2 separate regions of the Homo sapiens genome follow, and region 1 is linked to region 2. The links come from fine-mapping of genetic effects on plasma protein levels. Region 2 holds a variant in brackets. A gene starts in the other region. All regions are shown on their reverse strands.

The links. PIP is the posterior inclusion probability: the model's chance that the variant is causal. Protein levels are from antibody-based Olink assays in UK Biobank. Linkage for the fine-mapping came from a reference panel and not from the study's own genotypes, which makes the PIPs less certain.
Region 1: it holds the start of FCRL2, and the variant in region 2 is fine-mapped to the plasma level of the FCRL2 protein (UK Biobank, PIP above 0.99).

Annotation. Positions count from the first base shown.
Region 1 is chr1:157,773,090-157,781,401 of GRCh38, reverse strand. It overlaps FCRL2 (Fc receptor like 2), which reads left to right and starts at 4,270. Exons shown (of 12, transcript NM_030764.4): 1 at 4,270-4,359; 2 at 5,607-5,627. The coding sequence starts at 4,329. RefSeq lists an enhancer at 289-348.
Region 2 is chr17:17,384,506-17,392,841 of GRCh38, reverse strand. No RefSeq gene overlaps it. Among named protein-coding and RNA genes, the nearest start is that of NT5M, 85 kb to the right of the region's middle. RefSeq lists enhancers at 578-807, 4,370-4,870. The variant G/A (reference allele first, on the strand shown) is at 3,840.

The sequences.
Region 1 (8,312 bases), not on the chromosome of region 2:
CCTGCCAGAAAGACACCCACAGAAAGCTGCTGTGGGTGATTCTACTAACGGTTGGTGTAGTTGATGACCCATGGTTCACAGCTCCCCTTGGCCTGAAAAGTCATAACCCATCCACCTTCTGGAAAACCCACACATATACAATTAAAACAGGAAGCAGAAAGCTTTGAACTGAATTTGACCTCTAGACATCCCTCCCCACCTGTTGTTCTCATGGAACCCAGGCAACTTGCCAGGAAGTATTTTCATACACGGAGAGAAGACTGCTCACCACCACAGGTGCTGCTCTGATGTCTTCTATGAGCCTCCCTAAGTCTTTCTGCCTCTCTGCCTCCCCTCAGACACCAAGGCTGGGTTCCCCTCCACCTCCACTGTAGGAATAGTAATACCTTCTTTAGTAAGGATTTACCATAGTTTCCATTGCTACTAAAGGAACTGATAATCTTCATGACGAAGGAAAAAATCGAACTTTGTTAAACTCCAGTCCCCTAGAGATACACTATCTAAAACTTCAACTTACTCTTGGCCTTCTCTGATTCTCTGGGCTTTCACTATCTTCATTATCTTCCATGGAGGTAATGACCACTAGCTTCCAAGCATTTATACCCATTCTGAATTCTCTTTCATGCTATTTGCTCCATGCAGAGCCCTACTGGACTTCTAGATATAATAAATTTAATTGTAAAAAATCTTCTGGGCAGAAGGGCCTGGCTCTGTCTAAATTACATTGGAGAGTGTCTGCATAGACAACATTTGGTCTAGCCAGTTCTGTCCCAGAAGTTCTTCAACAAACAACATCACCTCCATAGAACTCGGAAAGTATCTAGTTACTATCTTGGACAGGAAGTTATTAGGGAAAGCCCCACTCAACAAAGACATATCATGCTGCTCAAGGTAATTATTGTAATTATTAAAACTGCTACTACCACTACTGCCATAACAATGATGATGACCATGACTATGACTACTTCTACTGCCATTTATGTAGCAATTATTATGACAAGTAATTTATATATATTATGACATTTAATTCTCTCATAGTGACCTTGGAACCCCAAGCTCAAAAGATTATATCTAGGGATCTTGGAAGTTAGCCTGTTTCATTTTCTTATTTTCCCACTCTAACTGTCCTAGTAATCAAATTCATCAAGCAGGAAGTGTGATTTGTTTTATTCTGACATATTTTATGAAGACTCTATTTGTCTCTGTCTCAGTTCTGGCATGCCCCAACTTGGCACTGTATTTTGTATTCCATTCAAGACATTGAACACGGTTCACAGAGATGACTCTTGCTCTGCATCTGGCAAAATAGGCTTCAGTATGTTACCACCTGTGGAATCTCCATGTTAAGGGTTTACCTGGTTGATCCAAGAGGCATTTATATGTATGTCTAATGCTGGTTCTTTCTGATACCTGTGACTCCATCCTGTTGGTGGCAAAATATCCTTGCACAAAAAGTATTATCTCTCACTTTGATCAAACCTACAAACATAATTTTATTTCTGCCACTATTGCCTTAATTTTTAAGTTACTTTCCCCACCCCCCACCAAGTGTCTATTAAGCCTCTTAATCTCTGGTCACAGTGCCTACTGTGCATTCAAGTTTAGCTACGCTTCCAGGATATGCCTATTCACTTGTAAATTACTGCCGTCTGTCAAATACAGAGTAGCACCCACATGAAACATGTTAGCCATCTTAGAGGATTTGTTGCCACCTCTGTGGCCCACACACCTCATTACTGCTGCTTTCCACCTGCACCTTTTATACCAACTGTGAATTTTACCTCATATCATTTGGTAACACCTTAAGAAATATTGATTCTTAACTGAAGAGGCCACATTTCCATAGAGGGTATATAGAAATCAGTGAAGGGATATGGATTATTTTGAAAAATCTCCTTGATGTCTATGAAAAACTTGTACCTACCATCAATTTACCATCAACTTTTTCATGATCCTATTTGTACTCCTTTCCTTAATTCCCTCCCATCCACAAAATTTCTATAGCTTCCAGGTTGGTCAGAATGGGAAGGAATTATAGGCCACCTAGAAACCCATTCAGTAGGCAAGATTTGATGATCAGTGACTAGCTTTGGTCCTGGGAAAGAGTAACTTACACTTTCAAACACATACAAACCGTTTGCCTATGCAGAAAGTTAAAGTAGTATTGTTTTCAACACTTTAAGATGAGAGAGGCCATAAAACCTAGTTTCTTATAATGAATCTTTAAAAAGTACGTAAATAGCATATGTTTATTGTAAGAATACTAGAATACACAGATAAGCAAAATAAGGAAAATAAAAATCAGCTTTAATTAGATTTTTTGGATATAATTACAGTAACTCTGTGGTGCGAATTGTCTCAGACACTTTTTATTGGAGAGCAGGGGATAATGTGCAGCAGATAAAGTGCACTCTGCAGCCACTTTTTTCTTTTCTTTTCTTTTCTTTTTTTTTTTTGAGACGGAGTCTTGCTCTGTCACCCAAGCTGGAGTGCAGTGGCACGATCTCGGCTCACTGCAAGCTCTGCCTCCCGGGTTTGTACCATTCTCCTGCCTCAGCCTCCCAAACAGCTGGGACTACAGGCACCTGCCACCACGCCCGGCTAATTTTTTGTATTTTTAGTTGAGATGGGGTTTCACCGTGTTAGCCAGGATGGTCTTGATCTCCTGACCTCGTGATCCGCCCGCCTCAGCCTCCCAAAGTGCTGAGATTACAGGCGTGAGCCACCGCACCCAGCCCACTTTTTTCTTAATCATATATCCTAGACATCTTATCTTGCTATTAAATATTATTCCACAGAATTATTTTAATGGCTGTTTGGTTTTCCACAGCATTTGACACATAACTTATTTTTAACACACATCTCTCCTTGTGATATATTTTTAGTATTTTCTTTTTACATTATTATAAGCAAGGCTTTAATGACCATCACATATAAATATTAGCCTTTCTCAAAGTAAAACTATGATAATAGTGAGAATAAAATGTTAAGTATCCAATTGTTAAAAATTCAATGTTAAGTATTCAGGTAAATGTTAAGTACCTGAACAGGTAACATTGAGTCTATGAATATTTTCAGTCAGTCCCTCATTTATAAGCACCTGTGATTTTTTGGTTTAGAGTTTCATCCTGCATAAGGTTCACTGATGAGACAACATCTACTGGGACTACATCTAATCAAAGTGAGCATGATAATAGGTGTTCACATAACACGCGCTTTGCTTTGTGTGAGATAACTGTATTAGGATCAGCCTGGGGTACAAAAAGCAATGCAGATTAGAAATAGGCAATGTTGTGATTACAGATTAGAAAGATGGCAATGTTTTCAGCAATATAGTGCAAGTGTTTTGAAGTTTAGTAAAATCTCATTCTAGAAAGTCATCGAATGACTACGAAAAATTTTACTTAAGAAATATGAGCTATTGAAACAATGGCCTTATTATTTTATGAACCTTGAGAAGCAATATATCAAGATAATAGGGCACAATGTTTAAGAGCCAGACTGTGACACTGGGCTGCCTGGGTTTGAATCCCAGATCTGTTACTACTAGAAATTGATTAAGCTGATCTTGGTCATTTTACTGGCTGCTATCATCTGAATGTTTGTGTCCTGGCAAAATTCTTATGTTGATACTTAATCCTCAATGCAATAGTAATAAAAGGTACCCACCTTTTATTACATGACCTTTTAGGGGTCATGAGTGTGGAACTCTTATGAAAAGGATTAGTCTCCTTGTAAAAGAGGCTTGAGGGAGCTTGTTTGCTCCTTCCATCATGTGAAGACACATAGAGGACACCATCTATGAGAAACAGGCCCTCATCAGACACTGAATCTACTGGTGCCTTGATCTTAAACTTCCCAGCCTCTTGAACTATGAGTGATAAATTTATGTTGTTTATAAATTTCTCAGTCTAAGGTATTCTTTATAGCAGCCCCAATGGACTAAGACACTTACCTTTACTAGTGCCTCAATTTCCTTATTCATGTGAAAGGGGATAGTGCCAATTCAGAAACTTGCTGAAGGTAATAAATAACTCTGTAAGCATGAGGCACTTAGAACTGTGTCTGACTCATTGCAACCCATATGTAAATGCTAGGTATCATAATGAGGGTCAAGTTACAAAATTTCTCTGGCATTGAGAGGATCAGCTATAATTGTTTTAGCCCTTCCAGGACAAAGATAATGGTTAAACATAGTGGCACTATTCTACTTCCTTTTTTGCTAATTATACAAAACCTATTCTGAAAACCACATTTCATCGCCTGCTCAGAGTCTCCAGTTGGTGACCAAGAGTACATCTCTTTTCAAATAGCTGGATTAGGTCCTCATGCTGCTGTGGTCATTGCTGGTCATCTTTGGTGAGTTCAATAATTTGACTGAGAAGTGAGGTGGCAGCTGAATGAGGTCTACTGCTCCCAAAAGGTTGGAGGTTTTATTGGAGCCCAGGGACTGGTGGGGATGCTCAGGTCCTGCCTGCAGCTTGGGCTTCAAAGGCAGATGCAAAGAAGTAGGCTGAGGACAGTGAATTTGCAGCACATCCATTAAGCATTAAGCACAATGCTTAATGTTCAAGGTGGACCACTTTTCCATTTGCTGGTCATGAATTGCTATTTTGATATCTTAGATCTCATTGAGTAATATAATGTTCTCATAGTAAAATGTTCATAATATTAGCATTTAGCAATGCCCTTCTCCTCCATGAACACCGATTATTCAATTGTTATCTATAAGATTTGGGTTCAGCAGATGCATTGAGACCCTTTGCTAATATTCCTCTGTTTAATCGTGGACAATGAGGGAGATGACAGCTGCTGCTAGAAAATAAGATTCCTGGGTGAGTGCAGTGGCTCATACCTGTAATCCTAGCACTTTGGGAGTCCAAGGCTGGTGGATCACTTGAGGTCAGAGTTCGAGACCACCCCGGCCAACATGGTGAAACCTCATCTCTACTAAAAATACAAAAATTAGCCAGGCGTGGTGGTGGGCACCTGTAATTCCAGCTACTCGGGAAGCTGAGGCAGGAGAATTGCTTGAACCCGGGAGGTGGAGGTTGTGGTGAGCCAAGATCGCACCATTGTACTCCAGCCTGGGTGAGAGAGTAAATAAGATCCCTTTCTCTATGCTGTGTAGGCACTAAATAAATATTTGTTATTGGAATACAAAGGGCTCTAACGTGAAATATGGCCATAGGAAAGAGACTGATTTGTTGATTTCTTGGAACTCTCACAATGTATGTTTCCTGATGAGCCCTTTGTGATCGTGTTGTCATGTCTATCTACCACTTGAAAAGTCAGAGTGTGAGATAGAGTGGTGGGGATGGTGGAAGGAAAATGAAATCAAGGAGAGTCACTAAATATCCAACATGGGTATTCTCGACAATCCCTTTAGTCAAGCATTGGGTTTGCAACTTGCCTTTTGACTACAATGAATGACAGTTAGATGTGTGCTCGAGGGAGATTGAATTGTTAGTAATAAGAGATTAGGGAAATAGAAAAGAAAGGGAAAATGGAAAGAAGTTTTTGAGCAATTTACCAGAGTAATATAAATTTATAAATTATGAGGGCAAATGCTGTGTGCTAATCTCTGGCTTTTGATCTCCTCACAGATGCAGTCACTGAACAGGCAGGTGAGTCCTCCTTGTCTTTGTTGTTCTTGGTCTCTGGCATATCAGTCACCCCACTACCCCAGGATTCTATAGAGGTGGCTCTGGAAAGCCTGTGAAGATGTCCTAATATTACTGCCCTCTAGGCTGACATGTTCTGAGGTCACGCAGCCTGTTTCCAACACCACTTGCATGTCTGGGTGACCAGGTACCACCTAGCCTTCTCAAGACCCCACATGCTTGCCTCTTCCTTAAAAGCCTGGCTTTAAGAAGGGCAATAACATGCAGATTGAAGAAAAGAACAATTTGGAGAGAATTGTTTTCCTGCCCATAGGACTGTAATGCCTCTTTATTGTCTGGCTGAATGCTGAATGTTTTTACAGCTCTGAAAACAGCTATTTATAGAGGAATGTGTCAGAACTACAAACTTCTGCAGGGTCAGAATAAACATGTGTCCTCATTGCTTCTCTAGCTCTAGCTCAGGAATCAGCAAGCTTTTCCTGTAAAAGGCAAGAGAGTAAATAGGCTAAGCTTTTCAGGTGTGTGCCGTAACTACTCAATGCCATTGCTGTGGTAGCAGGAAAACAACCATAGACCATATGTAAACGAATGAGGATGGCTGTGTTCCAATAACATTTTATTTACCAAAACAGTGTTGGCCAGCTCACAGGCCATAATTTGCCAACCCGTGCTCTAGATTTAGTATTTAGTTTTGATTTTTTAAAAATGCATGTATTACTGTTCTAATCATAAAGAGTGAAATAAAGCTAATTTTATTTCACTCTTTCTGAGTTAAATCTGTGCTCAGTGAAGGAAGTCAATGGGAAAAATATTTTATTCTATATACAGAATCTTCACATGAGCCAAGACAAAATCTAAAGAAAGGGAGACTTGTTCCCTTGCCCATTGAATGCTGGCTACCAAGTGGAAGGGGCTCTTTGGGCTCTAAGGAACAGTGTGGGAAAAGCAGATCCTGCTGTCACCTTGAATGGAACAAGAGTGTCCAGGGAGACATTCAGGGGTCCTACCTGGAACTTGCTCAGGAGCAAGTCTGGTCTCTTGCATTCATTCTGTCCCACATAAGGTCCAGGAGTCCCACCCTGTGATACCCATCACTCCACTGTCTGTCTGGATGGAAATTAGAGGAAACCTCGATCAATATTCAGGAGGTTTCTGACCATTAGTGGAATCATGCCAAGACAGCAGGCTCCCTGAAGTGAATCACCTACGACCATTCAGAGAACAGGGCAACAGCCACTTCATTCTCTTTCTTTTCCTTTAGCAAGAGTTTCTCAGAAAACTGAGATGTTCTTCAGAAGTTTGAGATCTTTTCTTTTTAAAAAGAGTAAGAGAGAACTTAGTTCAGCATGATGTACTGGAAAGAGCAGGACTTATATAGCCAGAAAGACCAAATTGAAATCATGGCTTTGCTATATACCTGCTATGTAGGCTGGGCAGTCACTTGGCCTCTGAACCCCAGTCTTGGCTCTGGGGAAAAGTTTCTGGCCTGTTGAGAATTACAATCCCCTGCAAGGTTTGAAAATGCTATTCAGCAGAGCAGCTGAAAAGGTCTTTCTGTCCCCATCCATTGCCTCAATGCAGTCTTCCACCCCATTTCCTCTTTTCAGCCCCACCCATACACTGCACTCACCACCTGGGACTTTGCCCTTGCAAAGCTTTGAATACCATTTGCTTTTAGTTTTTGCTGTTGCTCTGGTAAAGATATTTTTCACTGAAATTCTTGTGAAAAAACATTATTCAGTCCTGTACATCTTGCTCTGAGTTAAATCTTTGTGCTCCTATTTATTTGCTCTGCCTAAGAACTTCTCGTTCACAACCTACCCTTCTCCCTGCCCCCTACCACTGTCCCTCCACTGCAGTTCTCCTCTATACCCTCTGGGGGTCAGCATGATTCTATTGGGCACCTCTGCAGGTAGAGCCACTCTCAGCCAGTTTCTGGAGGATGTGGAACTCCCTGAGGATGAACAAGTCAGCTTTGGGACTTGTTGCCCTCCCCTTCTAGGGCCTCTGACTCCTTGTACCCTGCTAATGGTGCATACAGATTAGAACTCTTGAGGTTGCACCACAATGACAGCCAGTGTAGAGCCAGCACACTTCTGCTGAGGCCTTCAAACTGCCAGGTGGTTGGCATTGGAGCCATCACAGCCATGCTAGAAGCAAGTGGATACAAACTGTCACACAAACCCATTATGACTCTTTGGGGTTCCCTGATATGAAACTATGAACCAACTTATGTCTACCCTATAGGTAGGACATCACTCTCAGAGGGTTTGACTTCAAGTCACCTTCATTTATTCAGTATTCCCGAGTCCACCCCATCTCACAGACCTGAAACCCATTATTTTGGTTGCTCTTGAAGTGCAGTTATGATGACCTCTTATTCCTCCTCAGCCATCATTAGCTTCTGCTACAAAGACATCCCCCATCAAGACTGTGAGATTTGTGGCTCACTGAGTGGTCCATAAATGCCAGCACCATTGTGTGCTTCTCTCACAGAATCCTTAAGACTGCCTGATGAGAGGCAAATGCTCTTTGTTGTTCCATTTCTCAGTTGAGAAACTGTAACTGAACACAGGTCCAGCTGCTCACTGCTTGCAAAGTCCAATTAACAAGAGAGAGATCTGGTAGAAAGAAAGTGACTTTTTAATTCCAAAACATAGCTGAGGGGAAGTAGTACAGGCTTCTGCC
Region 2 (8,336 bases):
GATGGAAGAGGTTGCAGTGAGCCAAGATCATGCCACTGCACTCCAGCCTGGGGGACAGTGTGAAACTCTGCCTCAACAATATATATTTTAAAAGTTGGGGGTCGTCACTCTTGCCTAACATGGAGTGCAATGACATGATCACAGCTCTTCATAGCTTTTAACTCCTGGTCTCAAGCCATTTTCCCACCTCAGCCTCCAAAAAAGCTGGGACACAGGCACACATTACCACATCTGGATTTTTTAATTTTTTGCAGAGACAGGGTCTCACTATGTTGCCCAGACTGGACTCAAACTCCTGGCCTTAAGCAATCCTTCCAACTTGACTTCCCAAAGTGCTCTGAGATTACAGGCCTGAGCCACCACACCCACACTCTGGAGAGAATTCTACAATAATATTGGGTCTGGAATTTGCTCCTTCCAGTGGGTTCTTGGTCTCGCTACCTTCCAGAATGAAGCCACAGACCCTCGCGGTGAGTGTTACAGTTCCTAAAGATGGCATGTCCGGAATTTGTTCCTTCAGATGTTCAGATGTGTTCGGAGTTTCTTCCTTGTGGTGGGTTCGTGGTCTCGCTGACTTCAGGGGTGAAGCCACAAACCTTCGCAGTCAGTGTTCCGGCTCTTAAAGGTAGCGCAACCAAAGTTGCTCATTCCTCCTGGTGGGTTCGTGGTCTCGCTGGTTTCAGAAGTGAAGCTGCAGACCTGCACAGTGAGCGTTATAGCTCTTAAAAATGGCACGTCCAGACCTGTTCGTTCCTCCTGGTGGGTTCGTGGTTTCGTTGGCTTCAGGAGTGAAGCTGCAGAGCTCCGCGATGAGTGTTACAGCTCTATAAAGGTGGCGGGTCTGGAGTTGTTCACTCCTCCTGGTGGACTCACCGTCTCGCTGACTTCATCCAGGTGTGAAGCTGCAGACTTTGCCATGGGTGTCTTACAATCAGGGCAGACCCAAACAGCCAACAGCAACAAGATTGCAAACAGCAAAAAAAAAAAAAAACAAGCATCACACAGAAGCATACTGAACAGGTTACCACTGGCGGCACATGGTGGCCAGCTTTTATTCCCTTATTTGACCCCGCCCACATCCTGCTGATTGGTCCATTTCACAGGGCGCTGATTGGTCCATTTTACACAGTGCTGATTGGTCCATTTTACACAGTGCTAATCGGTGTGTTTACAAACCTTTAGCTAGACACAGAGCGCAGATTGGTGCATTTACAATCCTTTAGCTAGACAGAAAAGTTCTCCAAGTCCCCACTCCACCCAGAAGCCCAACCGGCTTCACCTCTCAATATGACCAACTATAAATCAGTGTTTTTATTATTACCATGCACAGACAATTCTAAACATCATCAGAGATGTTTTCCAGGTTCCTAGATCTTTTGTTCATTCAAGTTCCAGAATATTTCCAGGGTTAACTGTTGAGTTTTAATGATATATGTGAAGCTCCAAGTTCACACTTTTTATTATTCATTCTTTAATAAACTTTATATTGTACATGTAGAAGTTAGTTCTGCAAACTCCCACCCGGTTCAGCCCTGACATGCATATTTAGCTACAAGCGTCTGTTTCGAGAGTGAATTCCTAATGCTCCAGGACCTCTCCAGCTCATTCAGGTGCAGTTTCCGTCTCTAAACCTCTGGGTCTCATGTTCTTAGGTCCCAGCAGGATACTCAGAATAAGCAGCTACAGCCCAGAGGCTGTGAGGGCGAAAAGACAGAGCTTGAGTTACTTTCATCAGCACTTAGAGTTTTCGTTTTCACTTGGAGTTTCCATTTTCACTCAATATTTCTCTACGGTGAAGGCAATCAAAAACTGCTAGAACTGATCCCAGAGAAATAAAGACCTCGACAATGTTGCCCATTCTGGAATGTACTGTGAAATGGGATTTTTAAAAATCTCTGAGAGGCCGGGTGCAGTGGCTCATGCCTGTAATCCCAGCACTTTGGGAGGCGGAGGCTGGCTGATCATGAGGTCAAGAGTTCAAGACCAGCCTGAGCAACATGGAGAAACCTAGTCTCTACTAAAAATACAAAATTAGCCAGGCGTGGTGGCACATGCTTGTAATCCCAGCTACTCGGGAGGCTGAGGCAGGAGAATCGCTTGAACCCGGGAGGCAGAGGTTGCGGTGAGCCAAGACTGCACCACTGTACCCCAGCCTGGGCAACAAGAGCGAAACTCCGTCTCGAAAAAAGAAAGAACTCTACCAAAGTTATACTTACGTTGAAGACGTTTTCTAACATTTTGTACCCATTGCTTCATCAAAAAGAAACTTTACAAAATTGAAGTTAATAAACAATGCTCATCCATTCCCTAGGAGAGAATATGAGCTGACTATTCAGCCCACTGTGTTGAAGCCTGGCTATTCAACACAAGTCCATGAGGAAGACCAATGTTGACAAAATCACTTGACACAACTGCAGAAAAGAAAGCTGAAAATAGAAACCATAATGTCATTATCCATTATCGTGACTGATCAACATGAAGGAAAGTTTTTATCACTTTTCTGATGCCATTTTTCCTCATCATGATTTCATACAGAAAGGTCATTGCAAGCAAATTCTCATCTGCATTTCCTTTTTTTTTTTTTGGAGACAGAGTTTTGCTCTTGTTGCCCAGGCTGCAATGCAGTGGCACACTCTCAGCCTACTGCAACCTCTGCCTCCTGCGTTCAAGCAATTCTCCTGCCTCAGCCTCCCAAGTAGCTGGGATTACAGGCGCCCGCCACCACACTCAGCTAATTTTTGTAATTTTAGTAGACACGGGGTTTCACCATGTTGTCCAGGCTGGTCTCGAACTCCTCACCTCAAGTGATCCACCTGCCTTGGCCTCCCAAAGTGCTTGGATTACAGGCGTGAGCCACTGCACCTGGTCTTGCATTCCTTTTTTAGCTATTAATATTATTCCTTTTGTTTCATGATTAGTATTGAATGTAATTTTGTCATGTAGAGAAGGGAAGTGTTAAAAAATGATCTGTCCCTGTGTGGAATACGCCAGGCATGTCACTGTTTCAGGAGAGTATTCCCCAGCCCTTCCTGGCTGTGGGTGCCAGTGGTCAGAGCAGGTCTGTGGGCCAAAAAGTGCAGATATGGTTGGAGCTGAGCTTGCATGCTCAGAAATGGGAAGAGTCACAGGTAGCGTTGCCAGAGATAAAGAGAGAAAATAAACACACACACACACACACACGCATAGGCACACAGGGCCTTCATAAATTAATAATTTATTAATTTTATTATTAAATTTCAATATTGAATAAACAATAAATAAAATTTTCAGATAAGCGTGTCCCATGCAATATTTAGTATGTATTTATACTAAAAAAAAATCCAAATTTAGGCTGGGTGCCGTGGCTCACACCTGTAATCCCAGGGCTTTGGGGGATCAGTGCAAGAGGATCTCATGAGCCCAAGAGCACGAGGTTACAGTGACCTATGAAAGTAAATTAATAAATATCCCTAATCAGAGTTCACTGGCAACCTGTACAATCTGTATTTTTTAGTTGGGGTCTTGCTGTGTTGCCCAGGCTGGAGTGCAGTGGTGGGATCATGGCTCACTTGATCTGCATTTCATCTGGCAATCCTCGTGGTGGGGACACGGGCAGGGCAGTGACTGCCAACGCTGCACTACCTCCACTTAACATTCAGGAGTTTTCACAGGAGAAGTCCGAATCTCCATGGTCACCCGAGAGAGCAGTTTGTGGTATGGCAAGCCACATTCCTGCAGCTCTTGGCTGGAGCTGAGACAAGGCTGCGGCTCAGGAGGGCCTGAGCCTCTGCAGACCACAGCTGCTTCCCCAGCGCCTGCCATCAGGGGAGGACGGGGTGACCACAGCAACGTCAGGAGGA[G/A]TGGAACTCACCTGACCACTTACCACGTGCCAGGCACCACGGGACATGCCTGACACGGGAAGGCATCCTTAACCACTCATCTCTGTGGTTCAAATGTGCTATTCTCCTACCCATTCTACAGATGAGGAAACTGAGGTTCTGAGAGGTTAAGTGACTTCCCTGAGAGCACACAGTGAGTGGTGGGGCTGGGAGTCAAGCCCGCAGCTGTCAGACCCTGGAGCGAGGCCAGAGGAGGAAGGAGAGGGATGGGAGAGACCGGGCAGGGGGTGGGCTGCAAGGCTCCAGGACCCCCGTTAGAATCCAGGAAGCACAGGAAGCCATTGTCTCCCCTAAGGCTGTGATTTTTTCCAGCCCTTCCATACCCCTGTGGGTCTCATGGCCCCCACTCCGTTGGCCATCTCCCCTAAATCCCCGAGGCCTTAGGGTCTTGATGTCAGTTCCAAGGGGCTGGTGTGAAAGGCCTTGAGGTACAGCCAGGTCTCAGAGGATTCCAGAAGCCCCCAAACCTTCCAGTCCAAAGGAGGTGCTCTGAAAGCGCAGGGGGGCAGCCCGAGGCCACATGTCCCGAGGCCACACACACTGCTGGGCTCCCCTGACAGCCTCTGCCCCGCCAGTCTGAGGTGTGGAGGATGTCTGGATAAGGCACCAAGGCCATTGGGCAGAAGTCACCATGCCAATCCCCACAGACGTCAGCCAGCCACTAGGGGCTCACCCTTCAGGTGAACACCTGCGGGTGCCAGGCCTGTGCGCAGCCAGGAGGGAGCCCACAGGTGGGAAGAGGTAGTGCAGGCTCCTAGCAAGACAGGAAAGCTGCGGAGTCTGAATGACAGCTGCGAAGGAGGCCGAGAGCCAGAGGCCTCAAGCCTGCTCCTGGAGCTGCTCTCTGCTCACACACAGCAGCTAAGGCCAAGCAGGAGCTCAAGGGGCCTGGTCCCTCTCCCACCAGAATCCCCCAGAGAGCAGGGCAGTCTGGCTTTCCAGCGGGGCTTGGGCAACAACTTCCTCCCAGGGAACTCACATTCTCACACGGCAGTCCCTTCTGGAGCCCAGAGCCAGCCGGTCCAAGCATGCACAGTCCAGCTCTCCCTCAGCTGGCCCTTTGACCTTGAGACCCATGAACCCTGTTCGCCCTGCTGCACTGCCTTCCAGAGGTAGAATTCTTGGATTCCAGCTTACCCACACACTGTTCAACCCAGCCCCTGATGTCACAGACGAAGAACTGGAAACTCAGAGAGGTTAGGGGGTTTCCCAAACCCACACAGTGGACCAGGGTCCAGACTGGGCTTCCCGCCAACCAAGGACCATTTGGTTTGTAGCAAAATGCTAGTGACACGTAAGTCCTGGATGGAATTCTGTCTCCCTGACAGGGGGCTTCCTAGCAGTGCCACTCTCCTCTCCTCTCCATCTTGCCACCCGACCAGTCACGCTGAGCTCAGGACTTGGGGATGACTCATACCCACTGTCTTGCAACACCTTTACCTGAAACATCCCCACTCCCACCTTGCCTTAGCTCCAGCCCAGCCATAAAACACAAGAGGCCCCTTTCATGAGAGGGTCACCTGCCTACTGTCCCTTGCAGACCGGGGAGCTCCCTGATCAGTGTTTCCTGTATCCTCAGTGGCATCCTCTCATTCAGTATGCAGTAGGAGCATAATAGCATTGAGTGAATGAATGAAATAGGATCTAAAGTCACTTTTGGTGGGAGTGGTCAGAGAAGGCGCTGGGGAGGGTGTGGCCTTGGAGCCAGGTGTGAATCATAGGTAGGATTTTAATAGCCGAGAGCAGAGAGGAGGGCATGTCAGGTGACGCACAGGTGAGCAAAGCCCCAGCGCGGGAGAGCATAGGTGTTGCCAGGGAAATGGCACCCAGGGGAGGGCTTACTCGATTAGATGATGTCTATCAGGCTTCTCCAGTGCAAAGGTACTATTTTCCCCTTTGTCATGAATAAGTATTTTTGAGATTATGCCATTATTCCATTGCTCAGCACATGTTCAATTGATTCATTCATTTGCTTATATCTGCAAGGACTTATGCTTTCCTATTCCTTCTTTGGGTTACAGTCTGTTATTACGATTGTTTATGTTGATGCTCACAGCATCCCAATTTTGCCAATTCAGGGTGGCTTCTGGATATCTGTGACACGTCCCAACCCTTCTTTGAGGCCACCTGATTTCATGGTGCAACACAGGATTCCAGACGCTTCCTCCAAGGAGCCTGATGGAGGACAGCATGACAGGCCAAGATCTGGGCGGGCACTGTGCTCATGGCTGCTGGGGGGACGCTGCTTGTGGCCCTCTCAGCGAGCAGAGCCACCTACCCACACATGTGTTTTTGTATCCACCTATGTGTGTGAGTTCAACCCAGGCCTCCCACACCAAGTGAGCACCTGAGAATTCATCTGGTTTATCCTTTTCTGACTTGGCGACGCCACCCACAATGAGTGCTCTCATTCCTGGCACCCTCACTAATAATACTTTACCTGTTATTGGGCCCTGAATGGCACCATCTTGGGCTCAGCTGCTGCCCCTCCCTGCACAGACCCCCAGGCCTGGCTGTCCTGCCGCATCCCTGGGCCTGTCCACCCAAGGCACTTGGCCGGGTCCCTGGAGGAGCAAGCTGTGTTCCGTTTCTGCAGCTGCCATGGAATGCTGGGAACAAAACGTCCCCAGGGGAGTTCCGCTTTGGGTGGTGAGTTTGGTCTTCCAGGCAGATCAACAGAGGACGGCGATGCTCCCATCCTGTGACCAAACAAGGGTATTAATTGCGGAGAAGACTCTCTTATTAACTCCTGCCATCCATGGGATACGCAAGCTGTGCAGACGAATCTCTCTTCTCTCTTCTCTCTCTCTCTCTCTCAAAAAGCAAACACCCCTCAGGGGTGGTAATTCTTTAAATGAGGAGAGGAAATGAAGGAGGTGCCAGGCTCCTCCCTTGGCTGTGGGTGGAGAGTCAGCTCTACCCTGGGCCTTCCCCAGGGGGTGCTGAGATAGAGACTGGGGGCTGACTGCTGGAGGGGGGCTGGAGCCCCCCAGACTCTTCGCCTACTTGCCCAGCTCTGCTACTGCCTCCTGGCGAGGACTTAGGCATTGCCACCATTTGGCCTCTCCGCATCTGAACATGAGGGTGTTGAGCCCCTCAGAGCTCCCCTGTGACTGCTCATATTATTTTGGACACAAAGATGAGTCCCGCTCTTTCCCTGACACGGCCGGCTCGACTCCGCCACGCCAGAGTCTTTGAGGTCCTTGAGGTCAGAGGGCTTGGGGACTGCCAGCTGCTGTCTGAATGGCTTCTCTGAGAGCAGTTGTCCCCTCTGTGAGATGTGCCAGCTGTTAGGCTGTTGTGCGGATGAGCTGAGATAATGCGGATAGAAGCGCCCAGCATATGCTGACACAGGGATTATCAGCGTTCAACAAATGGAAGCCAGGATCATTTGAAACCCAGCCAGATGCTATAGGAGTCCATTTGGATGCAATGTCCAGAATAGACAAATCCGTGGGGACAAAAAGCAGATTGACGGTTGCCAGGGGCTGCAGAGGGGGGATGGTTAAAACGATACATTTCATGTGGCGTGTATTTTACCTCAATTCAAAAAAGAAAAATCCAGCCAGAGACAGAACGGCATGGTCCCCAGGAATCAATCTTTGTGGACTGAGAGGATGCTGAGGTCAGAGTGTCAATTCTCTAAATGGTTTTCAGCCATGTGTGAGGCTAACTGTCAGGGGCTCCTCTCGGCCTAGGGTGGGGACACACATCATCCTCTCTTCCTTACCTTGCTGGCAGGGCCAGGCCTTGCAGTGTCTTCCCAACACACGTCCACACCTGAGTTCATTCAGACCTCCACTCCTGCACAGCCTGCACCCTCTCCAAAGCAGGGAGGGTGAGGAGGGGGTGCAGTGCAACGCTCAGGCTCCGATGCAGGTTGCGGGTGCTGGTCGCTGCCCTGCCTGAGCCCTGAGCAGGCTGAGAGCCCCTCTCTCCGCACTGGTGTTTCCAGTGCTAAAGTGGGAAATGGACGGATGTTTTCCAAAGTCACTTCTTGCACCTGAGTTCACCCAGGGCCCATGGGTGGCTCAGGCCTAATGACCCACTCCCCATGTACAGGGCATTAGTGCTGTTCTAGAATGTGCCCACCCACAGCTTCGTGGGCTGGGACCTGTGCAGGGAGAAGGGCCCCTGCTATCCCTACCTTCAAAATCTTTTACATTTTTGAACAAGAGGCCCTACAGTGTCATTCTGCACCAGGCCCTGGAAATTATGTAGCTGGGCCTTGGGGACCTTCTCAATGAGGACAAGTACTGTGTCCCCAGCCTGTGAACAGTACCTTGCCCACAGCACAGGTTGGGTGTGTGTGGACTGGATAATAAACTTTCAGGTTCACTGCGAGGGGTGCCTCCCCACTGGTGCTCCCAGGGCCTGGCCTTCCTGGTGACCCCATGGACCATGGGAGGGAGGTGAGGTGAGGTATGGATGCTGCCCGGGCTCCTGATGCCCTTAGCA